7 linked regions of the Homo sapiens genome follow. The protein of the gene in region 3 purifies or fractionates together with the protein of the main gene of each other region. This does not show direct contact. Each region holds a gene or a part of one and is shown on either strand. Other genes may lie near its edges. The genes, in order: AEBP2, HMGXB4, MTF2, SHPRH, RMDN1, HJURP and BCL11A.

Evidence for each region.
Region 1: the proteins of MTF2 (region 3) and AEBP2 purify together in Homo sapiens (affinity purification with mass spectrometry, with the first as the bait; one large-scale study listed by BioGRID). This does not show direct contact.
Region 2: the proteins of MTF2 (region 3) and HMGXB4 purify together in Homo sapiens (affinity purification with mass spectrometry, with the first as the bait; one large-scale study listed by BioGRID). This does not show direct contact.
Region 4: the proteins of MTF2 (region 3) and SHPRH purify together in Homo sapiens (affinity purification with mass spectrometry, with the first as the bait; one large-scale study listed by BioGRID). This does not show direct contact.
Region 5: the proteins of MTF2 (region 3) and RMDN1 purify together in Homo sapiens (affinity purification with mass spectrometry, with the first as the bait; one large-scale study listed by BioGRID). This does not show direct contact.
Region 6: the proteins of MTF2 (region 3) and HJURP purify together in Homo sapiens (affinity purification with mass spectrometry, with the first as the bait; one large-scale study listed by BioGRID). This does not show direct contact.
Region 7: the proteins of MTF2 (region 3) and BCL11A purify together in Homo sapiens (affinity purification with mass spectrometry, with the first as the bait; one large-scale study listed by BioGRID). This does not show direct contact.

What each region holds. Positions count from the first base shown.
Region 1 is NC_000012.12:19,456,492-19,459,991, forward strand, and holds part of AEBP2 (zinc finger protein AEBP2), read left to right. Parts: exon of another isoform or gene 1-1,218; intron 1,219-3,500. UniProt on the Homo sapiens protein: Acts as an accessory subunit for the core Polycomb repressive complex 2 (PRC2), which mediates histone H3K27 (H3K27me3) trimethylation on chromatin leading to transcriptional repression of the affected target gene.
Region 2 is NC_000022.11:35,284,993-35,288,492, forward strand, and holds part of HMGXB4 (HMG domain-containing protein 4), read left to right. Parts: intron 1-1,004; coding exon 1,005-1,069; intron 1,070-2,354; coding exon 2,355-2,460; intron 2,461-3,245; coding exon 3,246-3,415; intron 3,416-3,500. UniProt on the Homo sapiens protein: Negatively regulates Wnt/beta-catenin signaling during development.
Region 3 is NC_000001.11:93,134,783-93,138,282, reverse strand, and holds part of MTF2 (metal-response element-binding transcription factor 2), read right to left. Parts: intron 1,614-3,500; coding exon 1,256-1,613; 3' UTR 1-1,255. UniProt on the Homo sapiens protein: Polycomb group (PcG) protein that specifically binds histone H3 trimethylated at 'Lys-36' (H3K36me3) and recruits the PRC2 complex, thus enhancing PRC2 H3K27me3 methylation activity.
Region 4 is NC_000006.12:145,957,859-145,961,358, reverse strand, and holds part of SHPRH (E3 ubiquitin-protein ligase SHPRH), read left to right. Parts: intron 1-3,500. UniProt on the Homo sapiens protein: E3 ubiquitin-protein ligase involved in DNA repair.
Region 5 is NC_000008.11:86,477,687-86,481,186, forward strand, and holds part of RMDN1 (regulator of microtubule dynamics protein 1), read right to left. Parts: intron 2,647-3,500; coding exon 2,591-2,646; intron 1,325-2,590; coding exon 1,237-1,324; intron 1-1,236.
Region 6 is NC_000002.12:233,844,536-233,848,035, reverse strand, and holds part of HJURP (Holliday junction recognition protein), read left to right. Parts: intron 1-574; coding exon 575-639; intron 640-2,215; coding exon 2,216-2,308; intron 2,309-3,500. UniProt on the Homo sapiens protein: Centromeric protein that plays a central role in the incorporation and maintenance of histone H3-like variant CENPA at centromeres.
Region 7 is NC_000002.12:60,463,155-60,466,654, reverse strand, and holds part of BCL11A (BCL11 transcription factor A), read left to right. Parts: intron 1-3,500. UniProt on the Homo sapiens protein: Transcription factor. Associated with the BAF SWI/SNF chromatin remodeling complex. Binds to the 5'-TGACCA-3' sequence motif in regulatory regions of target genes, including a distal promoter of the HBG1 hemoglobin subunit gamma-1 gene.

The sequences.
Region 1 (3,500 bases), on a different chromosome or scaffold from region 3:
CGATCCATCTTTTCCTTCAGCTCAGCAAACTTGCATGCAGTGTGAGCCGTGTGGCAATCCAGTACAGGGGCATAGCCAGCACTTATTTGGCCTGGAAGGTTCAGGATAATCACCTGAGCAGTGAAGCCAGCCGCTTCCATTGGTGGGTCATCTTTGCTGTCACCAGCATCATTGCCATGACGAACATCCTTGACAGACACATTCTTGACATTGAAGCCCACATTGTCCCCAGAAAGAGTTTCACTCAAAGCTTCATGGTGCATTTCGACAGATTTTACTTCAGTTTTAATGTTGACTGGAGCAAAGGTGACCACCATACCAGGTTTGAGAACACCAGTCTCCACTCGGCCAACAGGAACAGTACCAATACCACCAATTTTTGTAGACATCCTGGAGAGGCAGGCAAAGGGGCTTGTTAGTTGGATGAGTTGGTGGTAGGATGTAGTCCAGAGCCTCAAGCAGCATGGTTCCACTGGTATTGCCATCCTTACAGGAGGATTTTCGTCCCTTGAACCAAGGCATGTTAAAACTTGGCTCCAGCATGTTGTCACCATTCCAACCAGAAATTGGCACAAATGCTTCTGTGTCGGGGTTGTAGCCAATTTTCTTAATTTAAGTGTTGACTTCCTTAACAATTTCCTCATATCTCTTCTGGCTGTAGGGTGGCTCAGTGGAATCCATTTTGTTAACACCGACAATTAGTTGTTTCACACCCAGTGTGTAAGCCAAAAGGGCATGCTCCTAGGTTTGTCCATTCTTGGAGATACCAGCTTCAAATTCACCAACACTGGCAGCAACAATCAGGACAGCACAGTCAGCCTGAGATGTCCCTGTAATCATGTTTTTGATGAAGTCTCTGTGGTTAAGTCTCTGTGTCCTAGGGCATCAATGATAGTCACGTAGCACTTGCTGTTCTCAAATTTCCACAAGGAGGTATTAATGGTGATACCACGTTCACGCTCAGCTTTCAGTTTATCCAAGACCCAGGCCTACTTGAAGGAGCCCTTTCCCATCTCAGCAGCCTCCTTCTCAATTTTTTCAATGGTTCTTTTGTTGATGCTACCACATTTGTAGTTCAGATGGCCAGTAGTGGTGGACTTGTACGAATCTACGTGTCCAATGACGACAATGTGGATATGAGTCTTTTCCTTTCCCATTTTGGCTTTTAGGGGTAGTTTTCACAACACCTGTGTTCTGGCGGCAAACCCATTGTGAAAAGAAAAAAAAGCTAGTCAGAGAGATCTTTTCGGTTCCTACTAGTCAAAATGTCACAGCAGCATCAAGCGGGCACTTGTTAGAAATGCTTTATCTCAGGACCTACCCTAAACCTGCTGAATCAGAATCTGCAGTTAATAATACTGAATGCAGAATCTGCATTTGATTTGTATACACATGAAAGTTTGAGAAACACTGCTTTAGATTATCTAAGCTATCTGCATAGTGTGAGTGTATTGTCTGGCTTAGGTATTCTTCCAAATATCAGGGTGTATAGGTCTTCACATTTCATGAAATCAGTAGGTGTTCATTGAAAAGGAGAATTAACTGTGTGAAAAAATTTAACATATGTATGGTCCTAGAAATACTATAAGTTTAGGTGGATTGTCTCTTGTTACATAACGTATTATAGGAGGAAGGGCACTGCTTTCTGTGAAATTGCTATCTAGCTCAGGGTCCTGTCACAATCAGAAGTTACCTGTCATTTGTTTTCTGTCCTCTACTGTTGCATCAGGTCTGTTGCCTTCATCAGTCGAGAGAATGGAGAGGACCACTGGTGGCAGCATGGGTCTGGGGCCAAAAGGGAGCCTAGAGGCTTAGGATTGGATACTTCCTAGAAGTTGGAGGAGCCTAAGAGGGGTTGTGAAGCAGAACTTCTGTTGGCCCTGTTCAGCTTGGGGGAGACTCTGTGTGGGATGTCTTGAGTGTTCCAGGACGTGCCTCTCACCTTGTCTGCCATTGTATTCACAGCTTAGTCCCCAGTGGTAGGCAAAGCTCATGCTCTTAACATTTACATTATGTTGTCTTTATGAGGAGCTATATCCACATGAAGTATTGTTTCAAGTGTGTGATATCACACATAGACTCAACAATGATTACCGTTACCAGATTTTGGACTTTTTTATATGGTTCCTTTTCTTTGGCAAAGGTAATAAGCAAAAGTACATGAAGTACTATGTAGACAGACAGATTCCATAATGATGTTTCGCAGCTATATAAATCTCTCTTAACCTTACTGTGTCCAGTTAAAAAAAATCGATTTGGTTTTCAACTAATTTTGGACTTTTTAATAAAAGCAGTATAGGTACAGCATGGTTAAAATGGTATAAAAGGGTATATACAGTGAAAGATAAGTTTCTCTCCCACTCTTCCCTTCCCCCAAATATTTACTAGGTTTCGTATATCTTTCTGTGCCCTTGGAGACTAGCTATGTCTCTGTCTCCCTCCCCAACTTAGGTATGCAAATTGGATCATGACTACCCTGCACTTGTGTGTGTTTTACTTAACTATACCTTGGAGATTGTTCCATATCACATTGAGTTTTTATTGCTTTTCCTGAGATTGTTTATAAATTGGTTATGATTGGTTGTTCACTTAGAATTATTAGTATTTGCCTTGGAGTTAAATTAGTATAGTTTATGTAAGTATGTGCTTTACAGTTGAATGTTTTAAAATATTTAAAGCAAGTGATAGGGAAAATAGGTAACCATTTCAGGGTTAAGGGCCTCATGAAACTTGAAATTTCTTTTTTTTTCTTTTTTTTGAGACAGAGTCTCGCTCTGTTGCCCAGGCTGGAGTGCAGTGGTGCGATCTGGGCTCACCGCAAGCTCTGCCTCCTGGGTTCATGCCATTCTCCTGCCTTAGCCTCCTGAGTAGCTGGGACTACAGGCTCCTGCCACTATGCCTGGCTAATTTTTTGTGTTTTTAATAGAGACAGGGTTTCACTGTGTTAGCCAGGCTGGTCTCGATCTCCTGACCTCGTGATCCGCCCGCCTCAGCCTCCCAAACTGCTGGGATTACAGGCGTGAGCCACCGCGCCCGGCCGGGGGAAACTTGAAATTTCTAGGGTTTAAATAAAATATGTATTTCGGTATAGAAAAACCACCATACCCAAGGTTAGTCTTGCAACAACAAACAATATATGTATATTCAGATATTCAAGAGCTGATTCACATTTGAGAGTTTTACAGAGATTACAGAGTTTTAGAATGAAGCCTTAGAGTTGCACTTTAGAATCTATATTGACTAGGCAGGTAAATATATATTTATTGCATTTAACTAACTAGGTAGGTAGATAGATGAGCTTAAATACTAGAATATCCTTTAAAGGAAAACCTGAGACATTTTTCATATCTGAAGCATCCTACAAAAATATCTTTGCTTTTAAAAATGGATACGTTTCTAGCATGGGCAGCAAAACAAGACTCTGCCGCTACAAAAAAATAGAAAAATTAGCTCGGTGCAGTGGCTAATGCCTGTAGTCCCAGTACTTTGGGAGGCCAAGG
Region 2 (3,500 bases), on a different chromosome or scaffold from region 3:
GGGAAATCCTTCTTTGGTTCTAATCATTCAGAAATTTGGTAAAAACCTAACATCTTTTTTCAAATTCTACACATATTTTTTAACCTAAGTTGATAGGCCTTGTATTGTGGGATCAAATTAAAGACACCAGAGGCAGGATGCAGTGGCTCATGCCTATAATCTCAGCACTTTGGGAGGCTGAAGCAGGAGAATTGCTGGAGCCCAGGAGTTTGAGAGCAGCTTGGGCAACATAACGAGACCTCATCTCTACAAATAATAATTTTAAAAAATAGCTGGGCGTGGTGGCTCACGCCTGTAATCCCAACACTTTGGGAGGCCGAGGTGGGTGGATCACCTGAGGTCAGGAGTTCGAGACCAGCCTGGCCAACATGGTGAAACCCCGTCTCTACTAAAAATACAAAAATTAGCCAAGCATTGTGGTGCACGCCTGTGATCCCAGCTACTCCGGAGGCTGAGGCAGGAGAATCACTTGAACCTAGGAGGCAGAGGTTGCAGTGAGTTGAGATCACGCCACTTCACTCCAGCCTGGGCGACAGAGCGAGACTCCGTCTCAAAAAAAAGAAAAAAGAAAAAAATTTTAAAAAATTAGCTAGGCATGGTAGCCCACGCCTGTGGTCCCGCTACTTGGGAGGCAGAGGTGAGAGGGTGGTTTGAGCCCAGGTGGTTGAGGCTGCTGTGAGCCATGATCACACCACTGCAATCCAGCCTGAGCAACAGAGCCAGACTCAGTCTCAAAAAAAGACACCAGAAAGATGCTTAAGGAATAAATCCCTAGGGAGTAGATGGGTTACGAGTTGAGACTGTCTCCTGACCATCAAAACATCCCCTTCCCTATAGAAAAAAATCAAAGAAGAGTGATGGGATTGGGGTTGGTTTTCTGAAAGCATCTTGCAACATTTAAATATGAGCTTCAAAACCCTTTTCCAGTTTTTGCTTTCACCAATCTTCTATTTTGTTAATAGCTAACCCTTTACTGTATTGAGTGTTTTACTCTTTTATGCCAGATTTTGGGGAACTTAGTAAAAAACTGGCTGAGGTGTGGAAGCAATTACCAGAAAAAGACAAACTGGTAAGTACATTTTCTTACAAACATATTTTTCAGTGCTTCTCGCCTTCCAAAATATGTAATTCTTCCATAGACTAGCCAGCCAGACAGCACTGAAAATAGTGAAGAAAATTACAAATCAACAGAAAATGGTTTAGCAGAGGACATTAACACTGTTAGTGCCAGTTCACTGTACATGAGGATTTAGCTATAGCAAGGCTGTCTTTTCTAACCTGGTCTGTTTTTTCCAGCAGTGTTACATTTGAGCCAAAAGATGACCTAAGTTGAGGAGTAATTAAAGTGTTAAAAGAAAGTCTAAAATCAGAGCCCTTTACTGCAAACACCTAGTAATCAGTCATGGTCTGAGAACTGAGGAAAGTTATCCACTTAGCAGTCACTGCAAACAATAAAAATATGAGAATGTGATTACTAGGTAACCAGGTTCAAGGTCATCATCCTCATCAACCATTACCAAATAATGTACTCTACTATCAAGAAGGTAGTAAGACACTGATAAACAGTCATATCTGGGCTGGGCACGGTGGCTCACGCCTGTAGTTCCAGCACTTTGGGAGGCTGAGGCGGTGGATCACCTGAGGTCAGGAGTTCGAGACAAGCCTGGCTAACATGGTGAAACCCCATTTCTACTAAAAATACAAAAAATTAGCCAGGCATGGTGGCGCATGCCCGTAATCCCAGCTACTCGCGAGGCTGAGGCAGGAGAATCACTTGAACCCCGGAGGCGGAGGTTGCAGTGAGCCAAGATCACACCATTGCACTCCAGCTTTGGGCAACAAGAACAAAACTCCATCTCAAAAAAAAAAAAAAAAAAAAAGTCATATCTGAATCATTGAGACTTATGATATGAAGGTCATATAGGAGCAAGATGTCATCTAGATGAACAGCCATTCTTCACCCAGATTATCCTTAGTTTTTGTTTTCCTTGTTATTGTTATTCTGCTATTGTGTTGGTATTGCCAACTAGCAGGTTAGTAGAACCACATAGACATTATATTGAGCCAGAGGTTTAATCTGTGATTTTACATTTCAACTTAGAGTGATCTAAAAATCAGTGCCGAGATTTGACCATTAGCATTGAGGAATGTTTATAGTCCTTTACTAAGATATTAATGTAGTCAGCTGTCTGAAGTCAGTTCGGTGACCCCCAGCTTAAAAGTTAGCATTAACCCTCTGTCTGCCCGCCTCTTACTATTGCCTTTCTTTTCTCCATTTTGTTCTTTCATGACTGCTTTTCCTTTTACATTTTGTCCTTCTTAATTTAATTTAATGTTCACTGATGTGATTGCAGATTTGGAAGCAAAAAGCTCAGTATCTGCAGCACAAACAGAACAAAGCAGAAGCCACAACTGTGAAAAGGAAAGCATCCAGCTCAGAAGGTTCCATGAAAGTCAAAGGTAGTGACCACATCCCGCCCCTGCTTTTCTCTAAAGCATGTGAATTTTGCTTCCTTGCTAAGAAACTGGGAAAAAAGCTTGCAGTATTAGAAGTGGACCTTGATTCCCAGGTATTATTACCTGGGAATGTTACAAGCTACCAAAAAGAGATGTTCAAATTTAGAAAATGCAAATCAGAAGTCAGCAAACTTTTTCTTTAAAGGTCCAGAGAGTAGACCAGGCGCAGTGGCTCATGCCTGTAATCCTAGCACTTTGGGAGGCCAAGGTGGGCGGATCACCTGAGGTCAGGAGTTCGACACCAGCCTAACCAACATGGAGAAACCCCGTCTCTACTGAAAATACAAAATTAGCCGGGCGTGGTGGCGCATACCTGTAATCCCAGCTACCAGAGAGGCTGAGGCAGGAGAATTGCTTGAACCCGGGAGGTGGAGGTTGCGGTGAGCCGAGATCGTGCCATGGCACTCCAGCCTGGGCAACAAGAGCAAAACTCCATCTCAAAAAAAAAAAGGTCCAGAGAGTAAATATTATAGGCCTTGTGTGCCGTATGCATTCTCGCATTCTCTGTCACATATTCTTTGTTTTTCTATAGCCCTTTAAGAATGTAAAACTATTCCTAACTCACAGGCCATAAAAAACAAGAGACCATAGACTGAATTTAGCCCACAGGCCACAGTTTTGCTAATGCCTGGTATAATTCATAAAAAGGGAAAATCAGGAAGAACAACTTTGTGTTGTTCAAGGCTGTAGGCAAGTTTTACCTGTCTGCCTCATTGCTCTGTTCTCAGCCTCTTCTGTAGGAGTACTGTCACCCCAGAAGAAGTCCCCACCCACCACCATGCTGTTACCAGCCTCACCAGCCAAAGCCCCTGAGACAGAGCCCATTGATGTTGCTGCTCATCTTCAGCTGTTGGGAGAGTCCCTAAGCCTCATTGGACACCGTCTGCAGGAAACTGAGGTGAATACAACTATCAGCAGCATGACTACAGTTTCCCATATAGTTTCCCATATAATTTTGATTCATTCACTCATTTTACATACAT
Region 3 (3,500 bases):
TAAAACAAAACAAAAAGAAACAGAAGACAACTGTAACACTGGTGATAAAAGAAACTTTTTTTTTACAAGTAAAATAAAGTTATCAATTTAAATCTTGGTACACTTTATAAAAACAAGAGGTAATGTTGTAATAAAACAGCAGTAGCCTCAGCTGGCAACATACTGTTTGTTAACCCTGTGCAATAAAATACTTTGTTCATACTACACTTATTCAAACATGACTAACAGTTACTACAGACATTTCAGGAATCTTCACGGGACTCCTATAGACTTACTGTTAAAAATGAGAGACATTTACAATCATAATGTGCCATGAAAACTTGAAAACGTTACTTCTAGTAGGAGATAATGTTCATATTATTTGAATTTGTTTTAGGTACTGAACAGCTGAGTTACAAGGACTAAAAGTGAAAAGCATTCTAAAAGCCCATGAACACTGTTGTTCACACCCTTCTTCAGAACACACTAAACTTGTCTGACACATTTCTCTTCATACATAGCAAGCAACAGCACCCAATAAAAGCCTGAGAAGAAATGCTGCTGTGTAAATACTGCAACTATTCCTGAAAAAAGAATTATGGGATATATACTCCAAAGCTGCCCATTCCCATAATTTGTATTGCATAGGTCACATAATCACACACATATATATACACGTGTGTATATATATGCACATGCAAGAATATATTAAGACGACAATGAAGTCTAGTCACAGAGCAATTTACAGGCTCAATATATTTTTTTACACTTTGCTTGAAAGAAAATTTCAATATTTTACAGTCTTTCAGTAGGCATTATATACACTGCACTTTATGAAATCTAAAAGGTATTGAAATAAATTTTTCCAACATTTTGGTAACAAAACAAACAACGTTTCTCCAAATACTTGTGCTATCTACATGATGTTTGCTCTGATAATCACTAATCACAAAAAACTGACTCAATGGAATAATTAGAAAAATTGTCTAACACCATGCATGGGTTTCAATCATTTTTAATATCCTATCCTAGAAACATTCTACAAATCTTAAGATTTAAAAAATTAAGTCTCTGTTCTGATTTTTAAAAGATACCTTTTTATGACAATATCCATAACATTGACAGGTACATGTTAAGGCTAGTATCATCCCCTTTTTTGAATTTTTTTGACTTTTTTTTTTTTTTAAGAAAGATAGTAAAAGCCAGACTCCTTTAGGGCTTTGAACTGTACCTACAGAAAATCAGAGTGCAGTGAACATAATGTTCAGTCCTACAGTCAGGATGCAGTTGCTCCTTCCCATTCCACAAGATACTGCACCTTTCCATCAAGTGTCACCCGACGTGCCAAAACTCGGTATTTTTCGCCACATGCTATTCTACCTGCAGCACCAAAATAACTGGTAATGGAGTTCTTTAGATGATTGAGTTGTAACTCCTGATCTGCTAAGTTATTCAGAATCTCTGTGTTGAGTTCATCAAACTGATAATCTTCTTTGCCTTCATCATCTTTTACAATTTCTGAGTTCTGAGTCTGGAGTGCTCTTCTTGGAAGACGACCTCTTCTTCTCCGCAAATGTGGTATTGCAGCAGGCCAAGATCTTCCTGTACGCGTTCTTTTTCTGGAGTCAGATAATCTATGTAACAGAGAAGGCCAGAATTGTCTACTGAGCTTTTTTAGCATCCTATGCCCATACAATATGTTCTCTTTTCTGGATTACTCTACTATACCATATATCCTTGATGATATAAAAATGAGCCAAACCCAAACAATAAATGCTATATAAATGGACTATCACTTGGGCTCATTACTTTAGATTTTGTCACGTTCTTGGAGCTGAACTTTGTGGAGCTTTTCTTCCTTAACTACTAGTAAGTTTAGGGTAATTTTTTTACTTAGGAGGCCAACAAGGAAAATTCTTACGAAGAGGCCCTACTCATAAATCAGGTATTGCCAATAATCACATCATTTAAAAGAGCTCATTCATTTGTTCATTAGAACAAATAATTAATGAGCACAAACTACATCTATGACACTGCTCCATGTCCTTAAAGAGTGGAACTAGAATAGAGGTTCTCTTATTACCAGTTCTAGGCCTAGTGAAGTAATACACCAGAATCAGAATAAGCACAAACTAGCAGTCAGAGTATCCTGGGTCTATCCCTAACTCTATTACTTGGCCAAATTCAAATCTCAATCTCTATGTTCATGAACTTAATGAGTGAAGGGGTTAGACTGGATAATGTGTGAGGTCCTTTTCAGCACAGAAATTCAATTATTTTATGATTTTATAATAAAAGGAGAATATAGTACAACAACTAAATTGAAAGACCTACAGTCATACTGTATAAGTTAACAACCCAGCTCTGTTATACTTGCTAAACATGCAATGTTGGGCTTGTTACTTAAAATCCCCTAAGTCTCACTTTCCTCATCTGTAAAATGAGAACAACAGGACTTACACAACTCAAAAAATTGTTCTCTTTTGTTTGTTTGAGACAAGGTCTCACTCTGTTGCCCAGGCTGGAGTGCAGTGGCACAATCATGGCTCACAGGAGCCCTGACCTCCTGGGCTCAAGTAATCCTCCGCCTCAGCTTCCTGATTATCTAGGACTACAGACACCAATACCACGCCCAGATAATTTTTTTCTTTTGTAGGGATGGGGTCTCATCTCAAACTCTTGCCTCAAGCAATCTTCCCACCTTGGCCTCCCAAAGTGCTGGGATTATAGGCATAAGCCACCACACCCAGCCAAAAAATTGTTTTAAGAATTAAATAAGACAATATTTGTAAAAAGCTTAGCAGAGTATCTAGTAAGAGGCCCCAAAAAAGTCGATTATTCAGAATTCATTAATAAATGGGTTACACTTTAAGCATTTAATGTAGAATTTTGCATAATTTATAACAGCAGTTTTCGAATTATGAACAAAATTTAAACAGAATGAAGTATAAAACTTGAAAATAGTAGCTCTGACCCCAAATAGATTAACCTTTTCATACCTGACATGATGTGCTTTAGAGAAAAGTTGTCCTGGCCAGGCAAAGTGGCTCACGCCTGTAATCCCGGCACTTTGGGAGGCCGAGGCAGGTGGATCACTTGAGATTAGGAGTTCAAGACCTGCCTGGCCAACATGGTGAAACCCCATCTCTATTAAAAATACAAAAAGTTAGCTGGGCATGGTGGCGCACGCCTGTAAATCCCAGCTACATGAGAGGCTGAGGTGCCAGAATTGCTTGAATCCAGGAGGCGGAGGTTGCAGTGAGTCGATATCATGCCACTGTACTCCAGCCTGGGTGACAGAGCGAGACTCCATCTCAAAAAAAAATAAACAATAAACAAAAACGTTGTCCTTCTGAAGGGCTGGATTAAATAAGATATCAGAGGGGAGTCTGCTATTGATGAAAATCTTAAGTTTAAAATCATTTTATGGACAAAAGGATTTAGGTGTCTGATTTTTTTTTTTTTTTTTAATCAAATCTTGGCCAGCTGTAGTGGCTCAGGCGTGTAATCCCAGCACTTGA
Region 4 (3,500 bases), on a different chromosome or scaffold from region 3:
TGCACCCTGGAATTTTTTAGGGATTCTAAAAAATAAAGGGAGTAGTGCCTGGGCCCTTCTCCAAGACATTCTGACTTAGTTGGCTCGACATCAGGATTTTTTTAAGTTCCCCTGGTGATTCTAATGTGCAGTCAAGTTTGAGAAGCACTAATCTGTGGTCCCCCATCCTGCGACATTACAGTTTGGTTATTGTGAAATGTGGTTTAGAGCAGGGGTCCCCACCCCTCAGGCCATGGACCGGTGCCAGTCCGTGGCCTGTTAGAACCGGGCTGCATTGCAGGAGGTGAGTTGCGGGCAAGCGAGCATTACCACCTGAGCTGTGCCTCCTGTCAGATCAACAGTCAGTAGATTACCATAAGAGCATGAATGCTATCGTGAACTGCATATGCGCAGGATCTAGGTTGTGCACTTCTTATTAAAACCTAATGCCTGATGATCTAAGGTGGAATAGTTTCATCCCTAAACAACCCCCTCTCCACTCCACCCCTCTCCTCCGGTCCATGGAAAACTTGTCTTCCATGAAACCCATTTATGGTACCAAAAAGGTTGGGAACTGCTGGTTTAGAGTGTTCTCAGGATGATGATAAGTAGCAACTACCATTTATGGAATACAGGCCAAATTTCTAGTACTGCTGTTGTACTTAAATTATTTCTAACCACAATCCTGCTATCATCCCCATTTTAGAGATGAGAAAATTGGCACAGAAGACTGGATAACTATTCCAATGCCACACAGTCAGTAAATGCCAAAGCTGGAATTAGAATGAATATAAGACTTCAAAGCATTGCATTCTCACCTTTAAGCCACATCGCTTTGCTAATGTGAGACTCTGCTAGACAGTTGCTTTTTGGGTTTTCAGAGTTAATGATTCCACAATAACCATGTTATTAATATTATTATGGTTAGTGTGATACATTGTGTAACTGGCCCAATTCCCTTCCAACACTCCCTCTACCCTTCCACCCCCCATATCCATGCTCTTTGCCATGTGCAGTTTCACCTAGTAAAGAGGTGTAGTATATTTCTTCACCACTTGACATTGGGTCCATGGATATGTCTTGCTTTGGTCTGTGGCACCTTAGTGGTTTTTAAGCACTTTGAAAACTACTTGTGTGATTGGATTTGCAGTAATACACCTCAACCATTGCCATAAAGAACATTCCTGAGTTACTTTGCTGATCCAAGGAGAGGGGATAGGAACTACATTAAGCAGAGCCAAACTGCTTTTCCAGAAACCTAGCCTAGATTAGCCTCCTTCAGCTAATGTGCAGATCTATGAGAATAAATGATTGCTATATCAAGGTATTGAGCTTTGAGGTAGTGTGTTACACAGCATGTTTGTGGCAGTAGTTAACTGATAAGCTACTATAGCATAACTTTTTAAAGTTCCTGCAGAGTGACCCACTTTCAGTATTCCAGCTTATGCTTTGAGGAAAACTGGACAAACATAAACACTTAGGAAATTAAGAGCTTTCTATATTATTCCACTAAGATAAGAGAGGATAAGATGCTTTAAAAGTAGTTGACCATAGCCAAGGATTGATTTTAATCCATCACCTGCACATTCATAAGTGAAGCACGGGCTAAGGGAATAGAATTCTCATGATTGACTTAAACAAGCACTGTCTGATACATAGACTTTTTGCAATTATGTGAATGCTCTATATTTGTGCTGTCCAGTACAGTAGCCACTAGTCACATAGCGCTACTGAGCACATGGGGCTAGTGAGACTGAAGAGCTGAGTTTATAACATTTAATTTTATTTATAGTCATGCATCACTTAATGATGGGGCTGTGTTTTGAGGAATGCATCATAGGCAAGTTTGTTGTGTGAACATCTTAAGAGTATACTTACACAAACCTAGGTGGTACCGCCAGCCTACTACACACCTAGGCTCTATGGTACAGCCTGCTGCTCCTAGGCTACAAACCTGTACAGTATATTCGGTACTGGATACTGTAGGCAGTTGTCACACCGTAGTATTTGTATATTTAAACATATTTAAATATAGAAAATGTACAATAAAGATATGGTATAAAAGATAAAAAATAGTACACCTTTGTGGGGTACTTAGCATGAATGCAGCTTATAACACTGAAGGTTGCTCTGGGTTAGTCAGGGAGTGAATGTGAAGGCCTGGGACATTACTGTACACTTCTGTAGACTTTGTAAACACTGTACACTTATGCTACACAAAGTTTATTAAAAAATAAAGTAATGCGGCTAGGCGCGGTGGCTCACGCCTGTAGTCCCAGCACTTTGGGAGGCTGAGGCATGCAGATCTTGAGTTCAGGAGTTCAAAACCATCCTGGCTAACACATGAAACCCCGTCTCTACTAAAAATACAAAAAAAAAGTTAGCTGGGCATAGTGGCAGGCGCCTGTAGTCCCAGCTACTCAGGAGGCTGAGGCAGGAGAATGGCATGAACCCAGGAGGTGGAGCTTGCAGTGAGCAGAGATCACGCCACTGCACTCCAGCTGGGCAACAGAGTGAGTCTCTATCTCAATAAATAAATAAATAAATAAATGCATTATGATGTTACAATGGCTATGATGTCACTAGTCCATAGGAATTTTTCAGCTCCCTTATGGAACCACTGTAATATTTGGTCCCTCATTGACCAAAATGTCATTATACAATGCATAACTGTATTGAAAGTTAAGTAGTCACATGCAGCCAATAACTACCTTATTGGATTTGCTTTGGCCAATAGTAGCTAGAAACTACTTCCTTGGAGGTGCCAAGGAAATCACTTCCTTTGAATCATAGGGCCACCTTGTTCCTAAATAAAGGTTCAGTCATCAGGGAAGGAGGATAGACCTTAGGCAGGTAAATAATGTCACTTTAGTTTCTTTTATGGTTATTGGTCTATTCATATTTTCCTTCTTGGGCCAGTTTTGTTCATTTGTATTTTGTTAGCAAAATTTTATCACTTTATAATTTATCATTTTATCTAGATTTTTCAGATTTATTGAATAAAGTTATACTTAATATTAAAATTTCTAAATCTCGTGCATCTTTTTGTTTTTGCTCTTTAAATCAACTTTATGATATAATTTATGTATAAGAAAATTCAATTTAAAGTATATAATTTGATGAGTTTTGACAGATGTATACTCTGCAATCATGTGTTGAACATTTATGTCACCCCAAAGCCTGCCTTCCTGCTCCTTTACTGTCAGTCACCTCTTTATACTTCCTTGCCCCTGGTAACCACTCATCTACTTTCTGCAATCAGGTTTTTGCCATTTCTAGAATTTCATGTAAATGGAATCATATAGTATATAGTCTTTCACATCTAGCTTTCTTCAGTTTAGCATAATGCTTTAACAGTTCATTCAGGTTATTTTACAGAAGTCTCTTTTTATCACAGAATAGTATTCCATTGTGTGACTATGCCACAATTTGTCCATTCACCAGTTGATGGACATTTGGGTTTTCTTCCAGTTTGGGGCTTTTAATAGTAAAGCTGTTAACATTCAAGTTTAAATTTTTGT
Region 5 (3,500 bases), on a different chromosome or scaffold from region 3:
GAATTTATTCGTTGTACTAGTGAATTTTTAAGAGTCCATTATTATTGAAATTCCTACATACAATGTTAAGTCTGAAACTCTTTTTGTCCTACTTAAGCTACTGTTTTTGTAATGCATTCTCTAATGACATTTGATTTCTAGAAACATAACTAATTTGATAAAGTAGAGCTGACTATATTTTTTGTCCTTAAAATGACCTGTCTTAAAAAAAAAAAAAAAGAACCAGGTCTCACTCTGTTGCCCAGGCTGGAATGCTGTAGCGCAATCACTGTTTATTGCAGCCTTGACCTCCCAGGCTCAAGTGATCCTTCTCCCTCAGCTTAGCTGAGTGACTGGGACTACAGGCACAGGCCACCACACCTGGCTAATTTTTGTATTTTTTTTGCAGAGGTTTTGCCACGTTGCCCAGGCTGGTCTCAAACTCCCAGGCTCAACTGATCCACCAACCTTGGCCTTCCAAAATGCTGGCATTACAGGCATGAGCCACCGTGTCCAGCAAATGGGCATTATTTTAATAATACCATTATAAAATATTGGTGCATTATTTTAATAATATTTCTCAACTGTGTGTAAAGAATACAACTAAGTATTTTTTACATCAATTTCTACACTATAGCTTCCCAGAAAGAAAAAAAAGCTCCTTGTTATAATGTAAATAATACAAGTACAGCTTTTTCGATTGCCTGTTTTCTTACTCTGAAAAGCTTGTGATGAGTAAACCCAAAGTTTAACCAGAAATTCCTCTCAAATCTTATTTTTAACAAGAAAAGCAAAAGGCCTTGAAAATATGAGAGAATATGAACCTTTCATATGCTTTTTAAAATAGAAGTTATAATGAGTGTTCTTCTTTTATCAACTTAAGCATCTGCTTTACTTTTCTGTTATTGTGTGTAATACAGCTAAAACATGCTGGGTAACAGATGCTGTATTTCTTGTTCTATTTTATGACTTCAATATAGTTTAGATTTCAAACAGAAAATGAAGGTAGATTTTAGCCACGAGCCATTTTAGATGACAGTATTCCAGAATTACCAGCCACTCACCTAACGGGGAAAAAGAAAACCACTCACCAGTCAAGGATAATAAGTGTTAAGCCTTGTGATAACACAGTTGAATTGGATCATTAGAAATTGCTCAAGTCCCTCACTGAATCAGAGCTCCACATGTGTGAACACATGGTAGAATGGCGCTGTGGTTAAGAAATCCGTACTAACTTAACAAAGGACATCATACTACCTTCTCATAGGTGGAACTAGGAGGAGTTGCAAACAGCATTTTAGCAATTCTTCTTTGATACCAAGGCATTTCGGCAAATGTATAGCACCTACAGGGAAATAAAACAATTTTATACATTCAAATTGTACCTTCTTTTCTCTTAAAGTTAACTAAGCATCTTAATACTATAAAAGGAATCTTCTACTGTATGTTTAAACAACTTGTGCTTTACATGATATCTACTAGGTAATCCAGAGATTGACATAGTGATCCTTTAGCTGGGGGGTGTATTTTGTGATTAAATATAAATAGTAAGCAGTCATACTAATAACAGTAATATAATATACATCTACCACTGAGTGCATTGTGCCAGGTAGTGGGTTGATTCTCTCATTTATTCCTTGTAACAATTATATATGAGATAGGATAATTTCCCCTATTTTTCTTATAAGAAAAACTCAGAGAAGTTAAACCTTACACAAGAAAAATGACAAAGCTAAACATCAAATGTATAAATAACAGCAACCAACAACTTAAATCTATTTTTAAAGCAGCAAAGCAAATGATTAACCTCCAAAGATCTTTACAACTTTCAGAAATAAGTAGGAAAGAAAGTGTTGCATCTTTGACTAGGGTCTGAAGTCCTTAAGGCAGAAATTGCTATTTCATTTGGGTTTGCTTACTAGCATCTGACTTAGTGACTGCCCCTCAATTATCATTAATCCTCAGTGAATGAGTGTTAGCTTAATATGTCCTTTATCCTGAAGAATATATTTCTCTTTTAAAAGAGTTTGATACAGGACAGTTTACACTGGTACCCTTCTTAGATGGCAGTAAATATTCAGCTCTGCAGGCTATACTCAAAAGAGTGTCCCATCTATCTCAAAACAGACTCTTAAACCATCAAGTACGTAACACTTTGATAAAGCCTCATACCAGCAAAATAATAATCTACAGTGGACATAAGATCACATAAAAATAGAAAGATACTGAAAATCAGATTATATGGTTCCTCAGATTAATCAAGACTGTATCTGACACACTTTGAAGATACAAAGACCCTCTTGGGGCATTCTACTGTTTTACTATAGTTACATTAATCTAATTTCATTTAGCATGGTAAATAAGAATAGTCTTTTCAGTCTGTACATGTTTCTAAATGACCTGAATAACAATGTTTAACATGGTCATAATCAAATTTAGTATGTTCTAACAATATATATACAAGGGCTAGTTAATGGATTTAGCACTCTAAGCTCTGTCAGATAATATTTTAAAATATTTAATATCTTTTATATATGCAAAAGAAGATATTTATACATACTACAAAATATCACACTAAATACTACTGAAATATTTAAAGAAATTTTCTTACCAAATACCCATAAGGTGAATTGAAGTAGCATCTTTAGGGTTCAGTTCAATTGCTTTCTAACAAGAAATGAGAAAAATAAATCATATTTGTTTTCTAAACACCAATAAGTGCTTTACTGTGTTTGCTGAAGAAGCCATGATTTTTTAAAAAATGCAACTGTGTGTTTCAGTTCTCCCATTATAATATCAACTTTCTTCCTCCTGATTCTTTGATTAAATTCATTTCAAAACACTATTAATGACTTATACTAATGTTACTATTTTGTATGGTTCAGACATTTATAGTAAGTGTCTATCAAGATGAGAAAAAACATGAAATACATAAATGGATTAATTTTGCAAATTAATCTTGCAAATTAATCTATAGCTCTTAATGTTTCTTCCAAATTAAAGGAAAAATGGATAAGGAAGTACTTTCTTGGCAAACTGTAGATGAATACTGAATAAAAGTCATTCTTTCCTAAAGAAGAAAAGTGCATTTTAGTTTTTTAGAAAAAATGTAATTTTAGAAAGTCTCTTCTATGCAGATTTTAGAAAGTCTTTTCTATTTTTAGAAAGTCTTCTTGTATGCAGATTTTGTTCAACTTCCCCATCTGTACTTACCAAAGGAAAAATAAACAGTTTATAGAATATTAATAGAATAATTATGTGCAATGTAAAATATGTTGAATCTCCCTAATTTATATTTACTATGTGAATATAAACTACAGAATAAAGAAACTGTTCCTCCTTTTATCCATTATTTTGTTGAAAACAACTAAAGAAATCTTACAGATTAATGTTCATATTAAAAGGACTCTTTTTGAAAAAATTAAGATTTCCTAGTTTATGCTTTTCTATAAACCCACACTTTTGCTTTCAGTTTAGTAATGTGTGAGGTACACATTTTCAAATATTTGTAATGGTTAAGA
Region 6 (3,500 bases), on a different chromosome or scaffold from region 3:
TACTGCTATTAATCCAGATTTTAACTATAAATCCTTAGGTCCATGAATTTCCCCAACCGCTTGAAATCACAGGAAATAGTTATTTGATAGATGTACTGCCCAGTATGGCACCCACCAGCCCTCTCTGGATGATATTTAAATTAGTTGAAAGTGAAATAAAATTTAAAATCCATTTCCTCAGCCTTACTGGCCACATCCCAGCTGTTCAGTAGCCCGGTGTGGCTAGTGGCTGGCCTAGGACAGCAGGCAGAGAACTTTCCATGGTCACCGGAAGTTCTGTCGAGCAGTGCTGGGCTTGAGCGTCTCAACTTCCAGGCTCAGAGGCCATGGAAAGCTGGAGGTGGTGCAGAATCTGCCTTTCCTCACTCCATGGCCCCAGGCAGTTTCCCATTCTAGGGGTTCTCTGGGTTACTAAGAACCACGGGCAGCCGTAGATGGCTCCAGTGGGTGCACCCTTGAAGCAATGGGGATTTTTACTGTACAACTTACTCGAAGTGATGCCAAAACCATCCTTGAGAGGAAAATGCACTCCTTCCTGAAAATCCTGATTGAGATTTACTTGTTTGACTTTTAGATTCAAAAAGCGGTGAGGTCGATGCCACGTCAGACCAGGAAGAGTCAGTTGCTTGGGCCTTAGCAGTAAGTGCTGCCTTTAGTAATGAATGGACAGAGGGGGCGCTTGGGGGCTCAGGGGTCCATCAAAGCCCATGTGGCCTGAGGCGGGCAGCGCTGCCTGCACTTTTCTGGAAGTCCTCTCCTGAGGCTGGCTTTTGCTACTTCCAAGTCTCGGATTTCCTCGTGTCGATTCCCTTCAGCGGTAAGGCCCTCCTCTCAGTCTAGCACCTGGCAGCCAGTTCTACCCCCAGTGCAAGCCTGATTCACGATGATTTTCACTCTGCAGATAAAGCTGTCAGTGTGGTTGGCAGGGCGCCATCTGCCTGGATGAGCACACGACAGGAAAGCTGGGCTCTCGGTCAGTCTCCCCTACAGGGGCAGGGTAAAAAGAGAGGTGTTCTAGGGAGTATTTCCAGGTCTGTCCTCAAATGCCCCAAGTCACAAGGTCGCCTCATTGGGCAGCCGTCACTAACCCAAACAGTAAGTGTCATCTATATGTCTGTTTCCCAGAGTGCCCCCTGGGTCACAGAAACCACCCGTTTTCTTATGGGATGTGCTTCTTATCCTCCTTGGTTGGGATAGATGCGAATTTACACAGAGCTTAACCAGCTCCAGCATCTTTCCTGGCCCCCGTGTCACACTCTGTTGCCTGCCAGAATACCTGATGCATGGTTTTCCTCTAAAATTGCTACTTTTGTGCAGAGGGTTTCCCACGCACCCATGTGTGACTTTCAGTGACTAAGAAAAAGGCCGTGGTCCTGGGGAAGAAAGTGGATGCTCACTGAGAGATTGTGTAGGGATTGGAACAAAGGGGAAGTGGGTGGTACCAAGAGTCAAGAACCAAAGTGCCAGCCCCACTCAGCAGAGGATAGAGGGTGACGCCCTCTATTTCCAGTGTCTAGCAGGGGAGGGGTAGGAGAGCCTCCTGAGCTGGAGCACTGAATTTCTGTTTTTGTTTTTGGTTCTTTTGAGATGGAGTTTCACTCTGTCACCCAGGCTGGAGTGCGGTGGGGCAATCTCAGCTCACTGCAACCTCTACTTCCTGGGTTCAAGCGATTCTCCTGCCTCAGCCTCCCAAGTAGCTGGGACTACAGGCGCCCACCACCATGCCCAGCTAATTTTTGTATTGTAGTAGAGATGGACTTTCACCATGTTGGCCAGGCTGGTCTCGAACTCCTGGCCTCAAGTGATCCACCTGCCTCAGCCTCCTAAAGTGCTGGGATTACAGGCATGACCCATCACACCCAGCCAGGAGCACTGAATTTCTTATAAACTTACCAGTTTGAAGTTATTACCAGTAGTTGAGTCCTGAACTCACCTATGAATATTCAGATTTTTTTTTTCCTGGTCTAGCAATGCTGTCATAAACTTCTCTAGACATGGTTTTTTTGTGTGTGTGTGTCTTTTTACATTCTTTTGGATTATTAACATAGCAGGAAGTGAAAAAGTGACTTTGAATAACATCATGGAGGTGAAAGTGACTTTGAGTAGGATCATGTAAAGATTTGTACATTAATGAGCTTGCCAGTTTGTTCCAGAAGCCAAAAGGTCAGCTATACTCAGAAGCTCTTAAAAATTCTGACTTCTCTTTTTTGATCAGCCTGCAGTGCCTCAAAGCCCTTTGAAAAATGAATTAAGAAGGAAATACTTGACCCAAGTGGATATACTGCTACAAGGTGCAGAGTATTTTGAGGTAATCTGTTTCCCAGTTGTTTGTTTTTATATAATTAGATCATAAACTAAATACATTGAGGTACAGTGTTATTATGCTTTTTGTTTTTTCTACAGAACCCATAAAGAGCATTTGAAGTAATGATTTCCAAATTGTTTTATTCACATGCTGACATACTTGCTCTTCTTGAATAAACACTCCAGGTCCCCCAGGGCAGCGCCATCAGGAAGGTGGGAGCCCTGGCAGGGGTGCTCTGCCCACTGTTCTGGGGCAACTCACAGAAAAATCTAGTGGGGCAGCCAGGCACAGTGGCTCATGTCTGTAATCCCAGCACTTTGAGAGGCCAAGGCAGGTGGGTCACTTGAGGTCAGGAGTTTGAGACCAGCCTGGCCAACATGGTGAAATCTCATCTCTACTAAAAATAGAAAAATTAGCTGGGTGTGGTGGTGCGTGCTTGTAATCCCAGCTACTTGGGAGGCTAAGGCAGGATAATCGCTTGAACCCAGGAGGCGGAGGTTGCAGTGAGCTGAGATTGTGCCACTGTGCTCCAGCCAGGGTGATAGAGCAAGACTCTATCTCAAAAAAAAAAAAATCTATTGGGGCCACACACGGGACTCTTAAGAGCAGCCCTGACCTCTGGACCAGGATTTGAAGCTGCATAGTTAGGGAAGCAATAGTCCCCACATTCCCTGGTGCGATCAGGCTAGAATCAGCTGCAAGGTGAGGAGGCTGACCCTTGGCACCTGTCCCGCCTGCTGAGAGGTCATGTTGGGAGGGGGGGGATGTGATGGCATGAGAGGTGGGCACACTCACCTGCCAACCCCTCTCTTAAGGTCAGTGCCCTCTGCCATAGAATAAAGGACATTGCAACACCAAATACTTAGGAAGTACACATTGCAGAATAAGAATTCATCTCCAGAAAAAGGCAGCAATCTCACAGGGGTGTATGTGTTTTCTTACTGTGCTGCTGACCAGCGGAAAGCCTGTATTTGTGGACCACCGACTTAGTGGATGTACCTGAAATGCTTTTTCCTTTAACCCAAGGCAGCAAGTGGTGTCCTCTTGGTTGCTGTGTTGATCCAGGGAACAGATTAGGGTTAGGAACGAACGGATCTACTGGGTCTTCTTTGTCCACCGTCCGGTTGGCCCCTAGGTGTTCTTGTGGTCTGAGTATAATGCTAGACAAAGAAAGCTACCAGCGCCCCTGGGGTAA
Region 7 (3,500 bases), on a different chromosome or scaffold from region 3:
GAGCAGGGCATGCACCCTGAGACCAGATTCAAAGCCAGTTGTTTATTTTTGTTAACTCCTAGGTAATCCTAGGTAACAAAGAGTTATTGTGTGAATTTCATAAGCCCTCAGGTCCTGAGGGCTGGGTGGTTCAGGGGTTAAAAGCACCTCATCTGCTCCCTTCCCCCAAGCTGGGCCTAAGCCTGGGTTAGGTCACAGATTGCAGAAGGTTTAGGAGGTTGGGCTCACGGTTTCTAGTCCCTGCATGCTGGCTGGGTGGGGAGAGCTCTCCTGTTGCTGGGGGCATCTGGGGCCTGCATGGGGCTGTGGAAACGGAGCCACTTTTGGAGGGAAGGGATAGAAGGGAGTTGAGCAGTTCAGAGGAGGGTGGAGTTGAGAGGCCAAGGGCTGTTGCCAGGGAAACATAGTTCTCGGTCTTCAGCCTGGTCTTCCTGAGGGCTGGGAGTTTGATTTGACTGGTAGGAAAGTCTGAGCTTGATAGGGAACCCCTGTCCTCTCCCACCTTCCCACAAAGGGAGGGTACATAGTTTGCTGGTGCCCCTGCTGGCAGGACCAATTTAGGAGTGACCAGAACAAGGTATGTGGAAGTGGGTTGTGGGGGTCCAGAAAGCTCTAGAACAAACCTGATGCCCATTCCACTTGGCGGCATTAACCTGCTGCCCCTGGCTTCCAGAGCTCATAGCACTTCCCTGTGGCCACTCTGCTGTGTGCCAGTCACCCCTGCTCTTTAACTAGAGCCTCCTTTTGGCCTGGGTTAAGGCCTGGACTGGGACCTTCCTCTGGAAGCCGTTCGGGGTGTGTAATGTGGTTAGTCATTACCCTCAGTAATTAATCACCCCTGGTAGTAATGAAAACTCACATTCACATTCGACCTGATAGTTTACAGAGGGCTTTTATATACTTCTGTCATTTGAACTTCCCAACAATTCTTACAGGTACTGTTTTTATGCTCATTTTACAGATAGGAATTCCAAGACTCAGAGAAATCAAATGACTATCCCAGAGTTACAATCTAGTGGATAATAGAGCTAGGCCTCCAGTCTCAGACCTCCTTGTTCTTCTGAATCTTGAGGCTTAGATCACATGACTTTTTCACATTGGTGACATACTAGAAATGGGGGTCATTCCTTCCCATAAAGTAAAATGAAATAAAATAAAAGCCAGTAGGTGGGCTAATAGCTGATTTTAACCCTTTTGATGTCTCAAGTTCCTATGCTTAGGGGCCAGGTGTCAGTTTATTGCTCTAAATCAAAACAATCCCCGTAAATGCCCAATGAGGCTCTCAAATTGAGAAGTTGATTTTCATCAGAGTAAATGAAGAATATTATTATATTTTACACATCAATAAATCAATGTAGCCCTAATTTTGCCACACAGGAAATCAATTCCAGTCTTTCTAAATCATCAAAGATGTTATGAACAAAGTAATTTCACAAATTATGGCAAGTAACACATTTATTGATGACTGCAGTTTAGGAATTTAGAATCTGTGAGCACTGTAATATAATATGGTACACCGGCATGAGCTGAGTGAAATACAGATTATATGGTGAAATTGTAATGCATCATTTGCTATTAGTGGACTGGTAATAATTACCAGTTTCAAAGCAGCTCTCTCCATGTAATCTTTAGTCTCAATCGTAACAGCCCTTCTCATTGACATTATGATTACACTAGCTGCCCTCATGATCTAGAATATCTAGTTGATGGGAATACTAAAATGCGATAGTGAAAACTGTATGTTGTATGCTCATTATAAGATAAAATGCCATTTTCTCTGACCTGATGTATGAGAGAGAGGGGAGGATAACATCACAGTGTTAACATACTGTAGCATGATCACATAACTGGCTCTGAAAAAAAGTTTAGGATGCTCAGGGCAGCAAAATAAAATGGACTTTTCTCATTTAAGCCTTTTTGAAAGGATACAAATGAGATCCTTGATGTAGTGCTGTATGCCACAGATTTTGGCATTTATCAATGACTACAATTCATGGCACATGTGAAACCAGCACCACTAATTATGAGTCTAGTCCTGGATTTCAATCGATGTTTTATAAGGTAAAATATAATTTTAAGGCATTTGGAGTGATGAACGTGTTAAGGACTTGGATTATCAGACAAATCTTTTTACTTGCCCAACTCAGATCGTCAGGCTAAATAGGAATGATAGTCACCCAGAGATCTAGGGAGGACAAGGAGGAAGCCACAGAGGATCATGTAGTTGGAACCAGATAGTTTTTTTTCCAGCCTATTTGGGACCCAAGTTATTGTTCAACAACAACAAAAAATTTATAAAAATGTTCTCAATGAAGCTTTTTATTTCCCTTTGAAGAGAGGAGGCAAACAAAAATAGGCAGATAATGTGATACTAATGTCAGCGTTTTCTTTCAAAATCTTTCTGCCTTTTTTCCCCCTTCCACATTAGACAAATGTTTGAAACCTAATTTTGGTATCTTACCATCTAATCTTGTTTAAGAGATTTACCCAGGAGTGAGATATATTGAGTGGGATTATAAATGCGTTGTAAAGTAAATTACAAGGTCAGGGCAGGAGTCCATTATTTAGACAAGTGCTTGAGCGAGGCTGGCTTATTTTGGAATACCAGTGTTTGGGGGCTCCTGAGAAGACCCTGCCGGCTTTTCTTTCTGACTTGCTAAATGGAGGCATCATATAATTGATTAATTCCTCATTCTCACTCTTAACCTCCCTGGTAGATTTTTTTTTTTTTTCCTTCTTAGAAAGTTACTGACAAATACTAGCTGTGGCCTTAAAGAACTCTTGCAGCCCTTCTTTTAAAAGAAGGAGAAAAGTTTGTTATTTCTCAGTTATATTTTAAGGCTTTTTTTTTCAGAATCTCTGGGAAGTTTTGTTTTTCTCATCCTCGTCCTTTGGCTACCATTACTTCTGCCCTTTTTAATGTTGCAGTTGACTAGTAAACTGTTGGTCAGTTATTCCATATATATATATATTTAATGTAGCTATCTCCCCATATATATTTAATTTAGCCATCTCCCCAAATGAAATATTTTGTGAAGTCAAGCTGGCCCTTCTTTGCCAAAGTGGCATTTACCACTCTTGGGTTCTTTTCAGCAAGGGAAATAATGTGACTTAAGCAGGGCCCCTCTCCAGACGGCTTGGCTACTGGCCAGAGTTGACTAGCTGAACTGTATCTTTCTGTTTCTTTCTCAACTGGAGCTGAGTCCCAGCCGAGGGCGCAGGATGTTGTATAATTTGGTTCACGTTGTTAGCCTCTCAAAACAATGAGGAGGAGGATAGTGTAGCATTTCTCAGCCTGCTGCCTGTCATGGCGCTGGCTGTTTTAACTGTTCCTTAAACTAGGATGCTGTGTCTGCTTAAGTCGGCACCAGCCACTCCTCCTAACTTTTCCAGACTTGCATTTGTCTGACCGGGGGACAACTCCTAAAGATTGGATACAGCCTATCCGTTAAATCTGAATGAAGTTTTTCTTTCAGATTTTTTAAACATTCTTTGAGATA